Linked DNA regions of Homo sapiens. The protein of the gene in region 1 interacts with the protein of each later gene in a pairwise test. Each region holds a gene or a part of one and is shown in the gene's direction. Other genes may lie near its edges.

Region 1 (8,231 bases):
AAAAAAAAAAGAAAGGAATTACAGAGTTTCTAACAGGGTCCATAGATCTCTGAGCCTGACATAACTTCCTCTGCTAATATTCAGATGCAGCTAGCTCAGGTCAGAGCAAGCCTCCAGTGAAGCTATGAAGAAGGGCAGGCTTTCATTTAGTGCCACTCTATGGTCCTTTTTCTGTCCCCCTCTTAGTACTTTATAGGAATAATCATGTTAGTACTACTGGTAACACCAGCACAGTTTTCAAAGTACTGGTGAATATAATATCTAATGCAATCTTATGAAGTTGGCATTTTATGCCATTTTACCCATAGCTATGAAGGCCAGAGGGTCCAGCTGCCGTACAGCACTAGCCCACACTTTCTTCCAGGTCTGCAGTGCTTTCCTGCTCTTCCCTGGGCACCCCTGTTAAATAGAATGGTCTCTGTGTGCCTAGATTTTCCTTTCCCTGATCTGCTCTGTAACCCCTCATTTTGGGAAATGTGCTAGGAAATGATAAAATGTTATGAAACATGGTATAATCAGACAATGGATTTTCTGTGTTATCCTTCCAGAGGGCTTGCACTATCAACAATATTCTGAACAGGAGTGGACAATGTGGGGGCTTGGGGGACTAGGGAGGGTAGTACTTGAAAAATACTACGGGTTAAGTTTTGTAAAACCCCTCAAACTGAAACTCTAGCTAAGATTGTCACTGAAGAGATAACAGGGTGGGACCAAGGGCTCTGAGAGGCGGATAGAAGCCCCCCAGGGGGCCAGCTGCATCTGTAACTCTCTGCGCAGGTCTTGGAATGCTGGCCAGTGTCTACACTGATGACCATGAGAGAGGACGAGCCATGGGAACTGCTCTGGGGGGCCTGGCCTTGGGGTTGCTGGGTAAGTGGCACCAGCTGGAGCTCTGGGTTCGGGAGGGTGGGACTCTAGGAAGCAGGTGTTCCCGAGGTGTAGAAGACGAGTATTTTCCTTCCCTTGTTGGCCTCATCCTATTTCAACTCCTTTAGAAATATCACTGAGAAAAGGTTAAATTTCCTTCTCCTTAAGAAGCTGGGAAACACATAAACGTCGGAGAAAGGTCCGGAAGCCCAGCCTGTTGGAGGAAGTGAGCCTCCCCGATTTAGAGGCCACTGCTTCGCCTCGGTTCCCATGCACACAGCACCAGAGCATGGCTGCTGCCAGATGCTCTGCTAAATCTGTTACACGCATAATCTCTTTTATTCCTCACCACCAGGAATGAAAGGAGGAATGATTTTCCCCATTATAGAGATGAAAATAAGAATGGCGAAAACACCATCCAACATCACACAGCTAGGAAACGCCACAGCCAGGATACAGACTCCGATTTTCTGGGCTTGGAAACCCAAGCCCCAAACGATAAAACTACCCTTTCTTTGAGGCTCCTCCCTCATACAACTTAATTGACAAGCTACATGCTTTCACTTATTACATGCCAAGCACAGTGCCAGTACTGTAGGGTGGGAAGCCCCAGGCATAGTTCCTGCCCTCTAGGAGCTTACAAGCTCATCGAAAACAAAACACCTGAAATTTCTTCCCCGGCCTATGCCCCACCCTCTAGCCCCATGGGAAGCAGAGGAAACAGAATCCCTGTTATTTGCTAGTATCCATCAACCCAAATGCCCAAGCTAAACCCTGTGCATCTTGAAATCCTTTATCATGTCCCAAATGAATAAGCTCCCAAATGAACAAGCTTGTTAGATCCTCAACAGCCACTCCTGGCTCCTTGTCACTTCTGGGTTAGAATCTGGCAGCATCCTCCCTCTTGTGTACTCCCTCCTTCCACCACGATGCTGCCTGAACAATCTTCCTGAGCCCAGAGCAGGTGATGTTTCTCACCTGATGTTTCTCCATAGGCCGCAAGGCCAAGTACATGACTCATCTGCATATACAAGGTTCCTGCATATGCAAGGCTCTACTTTTCTCCTCGCAAATATTCATACTCTGCTAACACCCGCTTTCTTCTTTTTCTTCTCCAACTACACACTCTTTTCTGACACCTCTGTGTTCTTCACACAAGCTTCTTCCCCTCCAGATACTCTACACTTGGCAAAGCCCTCGTGGCTGCCTGAAATTCCTGAGACATTGACTGTGCTTTCATTGCATGCAACATTTTACTGTCAAACTTTCACCATGCTTTAATTATCTGTGTCCCTCCCTACACACACACACACATACATACACACACGCGCGCGCACACACACACACACACACACACTTCCTCCACTAGAAAGTGGGCTTGATGGGGACAGGGATCATGTCTCCATCTCTGAATTCCCAGAGCCTCAGGTGGAGCTTAGCCCCTAGCAGGCCTTCTGCAAATGCTCACGGGGTAAATATGGATAATTCTCACTGCAAAGGACTCACCCTCACCTCTGGAATCTGTGTCTCCTATGCCTCTCCAGTGGGAGCTCCCTTTGGAAGTGTAATGTACGAGTTTGTTGGGAAGTCTGCACCCTTCCTCATCCTGGCCTTCCTGGCACTACTGGATGGAGGTAAGTCACCATCAGAGCCTCCAGCAGGTGACAGCCCAGGTCAGGTTGGGAATGCATTATGTTGTAGTGTCAGTCTTCACTAAGAATGGGCGGTTTGGACATGTTTTGATGGATCAAGGACTGCCCCGTTGTAGAAAAGAAAGAAGAAACTCAGGGAGTTAAATTTATGCATAATAGGGTGGTAGCACTACAGCTGTTATTGGAGCCCCCAGCTAATCAGTAGACACGCTGAACTGTCTCACCTTCTTTGTTTCTTAGCACTCCAGCTTTGCATCCTACAGCCTTCCAAAGTCTCTCCTGAGGTAAGCAGACACAAAGCTCCATTTCTAACAGTTATACAGGATGGCTGAATGCAGGAACCCAGGCATGCCTGCCAAACCATAAGAAGAAAAGTGAAGAGGAATAGGGTCAGCGAAAGTGAGAACTGTGTTTGGATTCCAGGATAGGGTTACGTTTCAGGTAGTGTGGGGGATAGTGACGTATTTGGCTTGATGTTGGACAAAGATGGTGGAAGAACCTTGTGCATAATCAAAGAAGCCATAGAGAATCTATCTATCTATCTATCTATATATTCGACACATATATGGGGTATGTATATATATATTCATGTATATCTGGAGATCTCCATATATATATATATATGTGCACACACACATGTAATTATAGCTAGGAGATAATGACATTGGGGACTGAGTATTTGGAGCTGTAACATCATCTCAGAGATGAAGGCTGTGGGGGCCACCTAGACAACATCTTCTGCAATAAAAGACATCCTGTGTGAATATCCCTAACTGTCATTCTGTCACAGTTAATAAATATCAGAGTTGGTACTTGTTTGACTCTAAGCCAAAAACAGCTCTGGAAAATCCATATCCCACCACGAAGGAAAAAAAGTAAGAAAGTGCATCAAGTGTAAAAATGTTTGATCTAAAGGCCTTGACTTTGCATTCCACAGCTTGTCAAGGTATTCCGGAAGTCATGACACTAACACCTCATCATTCTTCAGGGCTTTTCACGCACCAGGAGCTCAGCTTAGTGCGCCATCTATGCTGCATCTTACACATTCCATGAAATAAGTACAATTTTTAGCCTCACTCTACAGATAATGAAATCGAGGGTGAACAGAGAAGCATCTGAAAGAATTTGAAACTATGACATAATCAATACTTTTAGAGTGCCAATTCCCCCAGAGCAACTAGGAGCCTCCCGCAGTCTCCTGAGATGCTCTGCTCTTTACAGACTGGCTTTAGGAGTAGGATGTCTGGGTCCTGGAGAGGGAAGTCATAACCACCACCCATCCAGGACTCCTCAGGGCAAGGAGCACCAAATACCCTCTGCACAGGCTCCCAGGCCTGGCATATGCTTGGGCCCAGCACCCCTCCAGCCCTGGCCCAGGCGTAGGGACACTCATCCAGGTGGTTCAGCCACTGTTTATTATTAACTGTGCAGCAGTGGTGAATTACTCAGCAAGTAAATCCAGCTTGAGATTCCAGGAAAGTGAGGCACCCATAAATATCTACTTTTTTGAGACGGAGTCTTGCTCTGTCACCCAGGCTGGAGTACAGTGGGGCGATCTCGGCTCACTGCAACCTCTGCCTCCTAGGTTCAAATGATTCTCCTGTGTCAGCCTCCCAAGTAGCTGGGATTACAAGCACGCACCACCATGCCCAGCTAATTTTTATGTTTTTAGTAGAGACAGGATTTCACCATGTTGGCCAGGCTGGTCTCGAACTCCTGAGCTCAAGTGATCCATCCGCCTCAGCCTCCCAAAGTGCTGGGATTGTAGGCATGAGCCACCGCACCCAGCCCATTCTCTCTCTTTCTAACAAATATACATTATTATTATTATTACTAATGTTTTGAGCCAGTTGACAGTAGATTGATTGTATCGTTCCCTTACCCCTTGATACTTTAGAGCATTTTCCCTAAGAACAGGATTTTTTTTTATGTAATGTCAATGGAGCTATCAAATTCAGGAAATTTAACATGGATATAATACTTTAGTCTAATTTGCCGTGCCTACTCTGATTGTGTCAATTATTCCGATAATGTCTTCCATGGAAGTCTTTTTTTCTCTAATGCAAAGCCCAGTCCATGACTGTGTAAGACATTTATGCATCACACCTCTCTAGCCTCTTTTAATCTGGAAAAGTTCTCAGCCTTTATCTTTCATGACATTGACATTTGTGACAATTATCTATAGGGTATTCCTAAATTTGGTTTGTCTGATGTTTCTTCATGATACCGTAGCCTTCTGAGTTTCATGTCTGGAGGTATTTAATGCCCGTCGCCTCTCAGTGGTGATGTCCATTTTGATCACTGGGTCAAGGTGTTGTCTGGGTCTCTTGTGTAGTAATTACTTCTTCACCTTGTAACTAATATATAACATGTGGGAGATGTTGTAAAGTCATATAAATCTCCTACTCCTCCTTAAATTTCCTTTCTGCCTAGATTTGTTATCCATTGATGATTCTTGACTGACCCAATCTTTACTATAATGTTTACAAAATACTGGTTTTTCTAGTTCACCAATTCATCCAAATCATCAGTTGGCACTTTGCTGTAAGGAATAGCCATTCCTCCAAGGCAGGCGGATCACTTGAGACCAGGAGTTTGAGACCAGCCTGGCCAACATGGCAAAACCCTGTCTCTGCTAAAAGTACAAAAAAATTAGCTGGGCATGGTGGTGCACACCGTAATCCCAGCTACTCAGGAGGCTGAGGCAATAGAATCCCTTGAACCTAGGAGGCGGAGGTTGCAGTAAGCCACTGCACTCCAGCCTGGGTGACAAAGTAAGACTCTGTCTCAAAAAAAATACTCTAAAAAACAAAAAAGCAATAGCCATTCCTTTCTTACTCTCTTTATATGTATATATTTATAAATATTTATACCAAATAGGTATATAATAATTTTATGTACATGTGATTATGTTCACAAAAAACTTAAAAAACATTTATTTATCTGATATTATCAGTGTAGAATCATGGAGTCCTATTTTTGTAGTTCATCACTCTATTTACTTGTTTAATTTTTTTTTGGAGACAGGGCCTCTTTCTGTGACTGAGGCTGGAGTGTAGAGGTGTGATCATGGCTCACTGTAGCCTCCAACTCTTGGGTTCAAGTGACCCTCTTGCCTCAGCTTCTTGAGTAGCTGAGACTACACAGGCATGCCACCACACCCAGCTTAACTTTTTATAGAGACCGGGTCTGCCTGTGTTGCCCAGGCTGGCCTTGAACTCCTGGCCTCCCGTCCTTAATTATTTTGATGCTCAAATTGTCCTAGATTTGACAAGTCAAAGCCCATTAACTTGTTGCTGTGTCATTTTAACATACCTTCATTGTTTTTTGAGTAATGTTTTACTTTTCGATACAAAAATATGTCCTACGTTCATCTTGTACTTTCCCTGCCTCAGCCCTGAATTCATTTCCCCAAGGAGCCCAGGTTCTTGTTAGTAGGGAATGGTGTTTAGAAACCAAACTATGGGGCCGGGCACGGTGGTTCACGCCTGTAATCCCAGCAGTTTGGGAGGCCGAGGCAGGCGGATCATGAGGTCAGGAGATTGAGACCATCCTGGCTAACACAGTGAAATCCCGTCTCTACTAAAAATACAAAAAAATGAGCCAGGCGTGGCGGTGGGTGCCTGTAGTCCCAGCTACTCAGGAGGCTGAGGCAGGAGAATGGCATGAACCCAGGAGGAGGAGCTTGCAGTGAGCCAAGATCATGCCACTGCACTCCAGTCTGGGCTACAGAGCAAGACTCTGTCTCAAAAAAACAAAAAAAACAAAAAAAACAAAAAACTATGGGGACTCAATGTGCTCTTTGCCATTGGGGTCACCTTGTTTCCCTGCCATCTTGATGACAGAGCTAATACACACACACAAGTTTGTACTGAGACCTCCACTTCCAGCCCAACTCCACGGGATTTTTCCCTGCTTGCCCCATTCCATACATGTATTCTTCTTTCAAAGTAAGAAATTTGTCTCCCCCTATTATACAAATAGGTGAAACACCTATTTTACAAATAGATTAAAAAATTTACTTACTTGTATAATTCTATAATACTTACCCATGCCATTATAAAAAACAAAGCTACCAAGAAATATTCAAGACTTTTCAGTTCTTTTTCCCTTAGACTTAATGAATATAGCCAAATACTGTATCTAGAAATTACCGTACTTCCATTAGTTCTTTTTTCCACCTTTAGTGTGATTATGTAATGCATGATACATTTGAAATTCATTTGCATCCATTTGTGGGGTTTTTTTTTTTTGGCATTTAGTTTTAGTTTTTTTTCTCCATTCTGGCTAATTATCTTAGTCTGTTCAAGATGCCAGAACAAAATACTACAGATTGGGTAGCTTAAACAACACATATTTATTTTCTCACGACTCTGGAGGCTGAACGTCCATGGTCAAGGTACTGTTGAGGGTTGGTTTCTGGTGAGGCCTCTCTTCCTGGCTTGCAGACAGCCACCTTCTCAGTGCGTCCTCACATGGCCTTTACTCAGTGTGCATGCACAGAGGAAGAGAGCCCTGATGTCCCTTCCTCTTTTTATAAGGAAAACAGTTTTTCAGATTAGAGCCCCCACTCTTATGACCTCATTTAACCTTAATTACCTCCCTGAAGATACTGTCTCCAAACACAGTCATATTAGGTTAGGACTTCAACATACTAATTTGACTAAGGTGGGGGGACTCCATTCAGCCCATAACACTAATATAATTTATTTTTTTAATATATAGGACATTACCACCTAAAAGTCAAAATTATTCCAAAAGGTGTACTCAGAAAGTGTCAATCCCTCCAGTCTTTCTAACCCTCCCCCTCTCCCACCCCTACCACTCATAGGTAACCAATTTTAATGCCTTCTGGTTTGTCTTTCCTGTGTCTTAGTGTTTTTTCCTCAAAATAAATCGCTTATGTGTTTTCTTATTTTTCCCTTTTCTATTATATGAAAGGCAGCACACTATGTATTCTTTTTTTTGCGTTCTCCTTTTTTTCTCAATAATATGTCCTGAAAATTACTCTACTAGTTCACAGAATCTTTCCTTATTATTTTCCACCTGGTGGTGTATATATATATATATATATATATATATATATATATATATATAGACACACACACACCCACACACAATTTTGTATGTGTACACAATAGTGTGTGCGCCATATTTTATTCCATCTCCTATGTTTAGGTAGTTTTCAGTATTTTATAGTTATAAATAGTGCTGTAATTTGCATGACTGCATGTTTATAATGTTGTCATTAATCTTTAGAGTCAATTCCTAGAAGTGGGACTGTTGGGTCAAAGGGTTTATTGTACTTTTAAATGTATATTTTAATGATTTACATCAGTTTCTTTACTTCGAATAATAATTGGGTAAGCGAATGATCTCTTTAGTTTTAGGATCTCTAAATTTATCAATCCACTATTGTGTGTGTGCAGAGAGGGTTATCATACCAAAATGATCCAATCTATTACAAGATAGAAAGTAGTAAACACCATGAAGGATTAGGACATAGTGTTCAGGATGTCTGGAAGAGAGAGAAGCCCCAGCTACTGAGTCAGGGAGCTCTCTAGAAAAGAAGGAGCCATTTAAGCTTGACTTTAAAGAGTGGGTAGAACATGGAACTATGGAGAAGCTCAGAACGTGTAGTTTAGGCAAAGGCAATAATGATGGCTGAGGCACTGCTGGGATGCTTGGAAAGAGGGTGGGGCGACCAAGTTT
Region 2 (7,616 bases), on another chromosome or scaffold:
AGGAAAATACAAATGTGACTTAAATGGGATTGAATGGGGTTCTTATTTTAAAAACTTGACTTTCTGACTTGATGATTTCTGTATGAGCTTTGTCAGGAGTTCAAGCTCAAAGCTTACGTTATTGTGTGTGTGTGTGTTTGTTTGTGTGTGTGTGTGTTAGGATCTCTTGGTTTCCCTGGACAGAAAGGGGAAAAAGGACAAGCTGGTGCAACTGGTCCCAAAGGATTACCAGTAAGTTTTGAGTATATTATAAAACAAAAAGAAGTAGAAGGAAGGCATTTTACACATTGATTTTCAATTATTCATATATATACACACATATACAATTTAATTTTTCCATTAAGTTGTACTTTGTTTGATTCCTTGACTCTTCCTGACTCACATGCCTCACTTGATTCAGCCCTTTGTACATTAAATGTTATTGGATGGGTTGAAGGGGTAAACTGGAGAGAAGAAAATGTTAGAAAAAAAGAAACTGATTTTCTTTTTCTCTTTCTTCTTTTTCCACTCTTTTTTCTTTTTTTCCTTACTCATTTCAGGGCATTCCAGGAGCTCCAGGTGCTCCAGGCTTTCCTGGATCTAAAGGTGAACCTGGTGATATCCTCACTTTTCCAGGAATGAAGGGTGACAAAGGAGAGTTGGGTTCCCCTGGAGCTCCAGGGCTTCCTGGTTTACCTGGCACTCCTGGACAGGATGGATTGCCAGGGCTTCCTGGCCCGAAAGGAGAGCCTGTGAGTTGGTTTGATATTTTTGGTTTTGTGATGTTAAATTTTCACTTAGAAATGTTTTCTAAGTTAATTCAAAGGATGGGACTGATGCTGAGATAAACACCCAATCAATGCTTAAAACAATGTGACCATACAGTAATGGCACATTGTTACTGACTACGTAGGGTTTCTGCACTACTCTTTTCTTTCACTTGTTTTGTAAACTTATTTTTCTTAACCCATTAATATTGAATACTATTTTCTATGAATAGGTGGGCAGGAGGTTAAGATGTTTATGAGACAGTATAAGGTTCCCCATCTCTTAACCCCCACATATCTTTCCTTGGGTTTACTTAAACCTCATGACTGGGCATGGTGGCTCACACCTGTAATCCCAGCACTTTGCGAGGCTGAGGTGGGCGGATCACCTGAGGTCAGGAGTTCGAGACCAGCCTGGCCAACATGGTGAAACCCTGTCTCTACTAAAAACACAAAAATTAGCCGGGCATGGTGGTGGGCGCCTGTAATCCCAGCTACTCGGGAGGCTGAGGCAGGAGAATCACTTGAACCCGGGAGGCGGAGGTTGCAGTGAGCCGAGATTGCACCACTGCACTCCACCCTGGGCAACAAGAGCAAAACTCCATCACAATAAATTAAATAAATAAATAAATAAATAAACCTCATAACCAGCAGTTTAACTTGTTTCTATATATATAGTAAGCTTAGAGAATAGTACAAGTAGATAGCCATGTTCAATGTGCCACAGAACTGAAAGATTTAACATAAATGAACAATCTTATTTTGTACATAACACACAGCCCAGGATATTTAGGTAGGAAGTGATATTTTATAATGTTATCTAGACTATAACCTTTCTGACTTACACTAAAATGTAAGCTGCATAAAGTCAGAGATTTTTGTGTATTTTTGTTTTCTGTTGTATCACCAGCACTTGACACATAGTAGGAGCCCAAAAATATTTGTTGGAGGAATGAGTAAGTGGAATGATCACACATACCATCTCATAATACCACTCACTTATATAGCTTTTAAGAAGAACTATTTATGGCTATATCCTTTCCCCAGTTGTATTCAGTACCAACCTACAGATAGTTGTTGTATCTATATGTTTCTGTATTAAACTTTTCCCTTTTTAGGGTGGAATTACTTTTAAGGGTGAAAGAGGTCCCCCTGGGAACCCAGGTTTACCAGGCCTCCCAGGGAATATAGGGCCTATGGGTCCCCCTGGTTTCGGCCCTCCAGGCCCAGTAGGTGAAAAAGGCATACAAGGTGTGGCAGGAAATCCAGGCCAGCCAGGAATACCAGGTAAGTTTACTGTGTTTTGTTTTAAACTTGGTGCTTAAAAACAGAAATTTATTATGTTTTGGCTACTCATGGCTTCCTTTCCCGAGAGGTGTGTTTCCCTGGCCGTTTATATTTGAACTCTTCAGAGCATCTTAGCAAGGGATCACAATGGTTTTTATAAGGGGGTTTCTTTTTAAATCTTTTCTAACTGTTTCATTGTTACTGTTAATTTTGCTCTTTTTAAGTACATGATACATAATGCAAAGTTTAATAAATAGTTATAACAGAAGCACACAGGTAGCTACCACACACATCAAAAAATAGAATGTTACCAGCATCCTAGAAACCCCTAACCTTTTCTCCCTGTCATTTCCTAATCACAATCCCCTTCCTCCTGTCTGCTGTCTTGACTTTTACATAGTTTTCTTCCATTACCCCTCTGTTTTATGACCTCTGTATGCATTTTTAAACAGAGTATTTTAATTTTGTTTCTTTTTGAACTTCATGTTAAAGGAATCATAGGGTAAGTGTTTTTTATATTAACTTTTCGTGTGGCTATAGTGTATTCATTTTTATTGCTATATAGTATTTCATTGTATGTATGTTTATGTGTGTGTGTGTGTGTGTGTTACAGTTGATTGATCCATTCTATGGTTAATGGTTAATTGGGTTATTTACAGTTCAGGTCTATTATGAATAATGCTTCTGTTTACAGTCATATAGATAGATAGCTAGGTAGATAGATAGATCCCTATATCTCCTTGTGTTCATGTGCTCACACTTCTCTAGGGCAAGAGTTGGCACACTACAGAACTACAGTCCATGGACCACATCCAGCCTACCACCTGTTATAAATAAAAGTTTTATGTGAACACTTCCACAACCATTCACTTTTGTCTGTGGTTGTTTTTGCACTACAACTGAAGAGTTGAGTAGTTGCTACAGAGACTGGATGGTCCACAAAGCCTAAAGTATTTACTCTGGTCCTTTACACAAAAGGCTTACCAATACCTGGGCTAGGGTATGTATTTAAGATTAGCATTTTCAAAGCATAGGATAAGTGCATCTTCCACTTGACTGGATAATTACAAACTCTATCCAGACCAATTGTACCAATTTTTACTACCACAAGCAGTGTTGAATATTTTATGTTGATTTACATCCTTGGAAACAATTTGTATTGTCGGACTTTTACACTTTTGCCAATCTGTTGAGTGTGATATTTTGCATTTCTCTGATTAAAGTTTAGCACCTTTTCATGTGTTTATTGGTCATTTGAATTTGCTTTTGTGAAATGCCTAATCAAGTACTTTGACCAATTTTATATTGGATTATTTCTTTTTTTATTGATTTAGAGGAGTTCTTTATATATTCTGTGCATTAGTTCTTAGTTACCTATGTATTTTGCGAAAAGAAATCTTTACCTACTGTGGCTTGCCATTTTTACTCTTTGTTTGGTGTCTTCAATGAGCAGAAAACAACTTTCACATCATCAAAATTATCAATCTTTTCTCTCATGGTTAGTGCTTTTTGTGTCATGTTTAGGAAATCTTTTTTTTCTTGAGCCAATTTCAAGTTCATGTTTCCATTAATAAGAAGTAGATATACTTGAACTTTGCACATGTAAAACCTAAATGTACCTATTAGCCAAAAAAATATTTTCCTTGTTTACTACAGTTTGATTTTTAATGCTCTTTTGGCCTACATTTTAAAAATACTTATATAGGTAACACCCTGTTTTAGGGGTTTCCAGAGAAACAGAACCAATAAAAAGGATGGACAGATGGGTAGATTAGATAGATAGATAGATAGATAGATAGATAGATAGATAGATAGATAGATGAGAGGTGATTTATTATGGGAATTGACTTACATGATTATGGAGGCTGAGAAATCCCACAGTAGGCCACCTGTAAGTTGAAGAACTAGGGAAGCCAGTAGCTTGGCTCAGTCCTAGTCTGAATGCCTGAGAACCTGAGTGGCTGCTTAGTACAAGTCCCAGAGTCTGAAAGCCAGAGAACCTGGAGTTGTGATGTCCAAGGGTAGGAGAGGATGGGTGTACCAGTTTCAAAAGAGAGAGAGCAGAGAATTCACCTTTTTTTCTGCCTTTTTGTTGTATCCGGTCCCTCAGCTGATTGGATGGTACCCACACACATTGGGTGAGGGTGGATCATCCTTATTCGTTTCACTGATTCAAATGTCAGTTTCTTTCGGAAACAGCCTCACAGACATATCTAGAAATAATGCTTTACCAGCGATCTCAGTATCTCTTAATCTAGTCATGTTGAAACCTAAAATTAACCATTATACATCTTGAATCATGGAAGTCCTTAAGGCTGTCATATCCTTTTTCTTTTTGAAATTCTATCCTTCTGTTTTATATATTTCTTGAATATATAGTGGAAGATTGTTTTTCTTGTGAATTTTTGTTAGTTTACATTTTCAAAAGATTGCTGATAATTTTCTTTTTTGTTTTTAATTAAAAAGAGACCTTTAGTTGAGTAAATACTTCTCATTTACCATTGATTTACTCTTGCTTTCAGGTCCTAAAGGGGATCCAGGTCAGACTATAACCCAGCCGGGGAAGCCTGGCTTGCCTGGTAACCCAGGCAGAGATGGTGATGTAGGTCTTCCAGGTATGTGAGGAATTTATTTCAAAGTAACTTCAACACCGATGGCTTTTTTTTTTTTTTTTTTGACAGAGTTTCGCTCTGTCACCCATGCTGGAGTACAGTGGCGTGATGTTGGCTTGCTGCAGCAACCTCCTACTTCTGGGTTCAAGCAGTTCTCCCTGCCTCAGCCTCCCAAGTAGCTGGGATTACAGGCGCCCACCACCACGCCCAGTTAATTTTTGTATTTTTAGTAGAGACGGAGTTTCTCCACGTTGGCCAGGCTGGTCTCGAACTCCTGACCTCAGGTGACCCATTGCCTCAGCCTCCCAAAGTGCTGGGATTACAAGAGTGAGCCACTGCACCTGGCCCTGATGGCTTCTTTCTTTGAACGTTTTCCTTTCAATAACTGCTGTTTCTCCATAGGTGACCCTGGACTTCCAGGGCAACCAGGCTTGCCAGGGATACCTGGTAGCAAAGGAGAACCAGGTATCCCTGGAATTGGGCTTCCTGGACCACCTGGTCCCAAAGGTATGTTGGAATGGGTAGCAGGCAGAGTAGGTTAGAAGTTTAGCATGATGTTATTCTCTCATAAAATTCATTCAACAAATAAAATATATTAATTGCACCTTTTTTCTCTGTGCTATAAAGAATGTAAATAAAAAATCACAGTGTATTTTCACTGTAAGTTCATTATCTTTATCTAAAACAGTCCAGACAAGAAAATATCTACATTTTAGATATGCAAAAGTGATATATAAGCTTAAAAATCACAGGAATTATTGTGTTTTGTGTTCACCATAGTATTTTCAGGGTTTAGAACAGTTCCTAACACATAGTGTGCACTTGATGTTTATTGAGTTAAAGGATTTTTTAAACAGAAAACAGACTTATTGCAGATGTGTAGCCAAGTAATGTTTTATGCTAAATAATATTTTCTTGATTTATTGAAATTTTTAGGGCTTATGCTTCAGTTCTGCTTTATTCCTCACAGAATTTATTCTCACAAATGGCAAGAGCACACAGTGGTCTGAGGACAGTTCTTAAATATATCTTTACTCATTTATACAAAATGCTTTCAAAAGTATCAGGTTTGATTTTATGTGTGTATGTATCTATAATATCTGCAGTTATTTTTAGATCATTTCCAAAATTATATGGTAGGCCCTTTGTCATACTACATCCAGATATAAGCAGAAGAAAAGTTCTTGGGCATTTTTGTGTGGGATTCATTCCTTACAATTTAGTTCTATCTTATTATATAATAGCCCTCATTTTCTTCAGAAAAGCATATGTTCCACATACATTAGCTCTATGTGAAAATAAAAGGAATGTAAGATGATTGAGAGGATTGTAAGGCTTAATCCTAAGTAGTAGAATGTCATTGTGCTTTTGACATCTTACTGTTGTCACTAAGCATGAGTAGAATGTGGGTTTGGGAATTTGAATATCTTTCTTAAAGTGCCTTTCCTTTGGTGGTTAAAAAATGACTTATCATTTTACAGGCTTTCCTGGAATTCCAGGACCTCCAGGAGCACCTGGGACACCTGGAAGAATTGGTCTAGAAGGCCCTCCTGGGCCACCCGGCTTTCCAGGACCAAAGGTCTGGGACATTTTTCTTTATTCCTTCTCATTTTCTTATCTTTCCCACCTTCCTTATTTCTAGCTCTCTATTTTGACTCAGATATCATCCCAAGCCCCAAGTCTTTACTATAAATATACAGATAACTTATTATATTTCCATTAAAAAAATATTTAACCCCAAATCATCTTTAATAGTCCAAGGTCACATTTGGAGCAAAAAAAAAAAAAAAAAAAACCTAATTTCTGTACCTACTTTTGAATGCCCAGTTCTTTGATTAGAGAATACAGGCATACCTTGGAGATATTGCAGGTTTAGTTCCAGACCACCACAATAAAGTGAATATCAAAATAAAGTGAATCACACAACTTTTTTTGTTTCCCACTACATATAAAGGTTATGTTTACACTATACTGTAGTCTTTAAAGTGTGCGATAGCATTAGGTCTAAAAAAAACCATATGCATACCTTAATTAAAAATACTTTATTGCTAAAAAATTTTAGCAATCATCTAAGCTTGCAGCAAGTTATAATCTTTATGCTGGGGGAGGGTTTTGACTCAATATTGATGGCTGCCCACTGATCAGGGTGATGGTTGCTGAAGGTTGGGTGGCTGTGGCCATTTTTTTAAATAAGACAACAATGAAGTTTGCCACATCAATTGACTCTTCCTTTCAGAAAAGATTTCTCTGCAGCATGTGGTGCTGTTTGATGGTATTTTACCCACAGTAGAACCTCTTTCAAAATTGGAGTGAGTCTTCTCAGACCCTGCTGCTGCTTTATCAACTAAGTTTATATAATATTCTAAGTCCTTTAGTGTCATTTCAACACTGTTCCCAGCATCTTCACCAGGGTAGATTCCATCTCTAGAAATCACTTTTGCTCATAAGAAGCAACTGCTCATCTGTTCTACTTTTATTATAAGATTGCAGCAATTCATTCACATCTTCATTCTCTACTTATAATTGTTGTTCTCTTGCTACTTCCACCATATTTGCAGTTACTTACTCCATTGAAGTCTTGAAACCCTCAAAGTCATCTGTGAGAGTTAGAATTAACTTCTTCCAAACTCCTGTTAATATTGATGTTTTGACCTCTTCTAATGAATCCTGAATTTTCTTCATGACATCTAGAATGAAACCCTTTTCAGAAGGTTTCCAATTTGTTTTGCCAGATCCATAAGAAGAATCACTATTTATGACAGCTATACATTACACAATGTGTTTCTTAAATAATAAGACTTGAAAATTAAAAGCACTCTTTGATCCATGGGCTGCAGAATGGGTATTGTGTTAGCAGCCATGAAAAGAACATTCATCTCTTTGTACATCACCATCAGAGCTCTTGGGTGACTAGGTGCATTGTAAATGAGCAGTAAAATTTTGAAAGGAATCTTTTCTTCTGAGGAGTAGG

The links. Proteins that work in one complex are often made in the same cells at the same time.
Region 2: the proteins of SLC18A1 (region 1) and COL4A5 interact in binary tests that used the Homo sapiens proteins (3 or more experiments, as listed by UniProt).

What each region holds. Positions count from the first base shown.
Region 1 is NC_000008.11:20,165,675-20,173,905, reverse strand, and holds part of SLC18A1 (chromaffin granule amine transporter), read left to right. Parts: intron 1-777; coding exon 778-870; intron 871-2,411; coding exon 2,412-2,501; intron 2,502-2,759; coding exon 2,760-2,803; intron 2,804-8,231.
Region 2 is NC_000023.11:108,596,838-108,604,453, forward strand, and holds part of COL4A5 (collagen alpha-5(IV) chain isoform 2 precursor), read left to right. Parts: intron 1-160; coding exon 161-231; intron 232-539; coding exon 540-731; intron 732-1,864; coding exon 1,865-2,033; intron 2,034-4,555; coding exon 4,556-4,648; intron 4,649-5,047; coding exon 5,048-5,152; intron 5,153-6,126; coding exon 6,127-6,224; intron 6,225-7,616. UniProt on the Homo sapiens protein: Type IV collagen is the major structural component of glomerular basement membranes (GBM), forming a 'chicken-wire' meshwork together with laminins, proteoglycans and entactin/nidogen.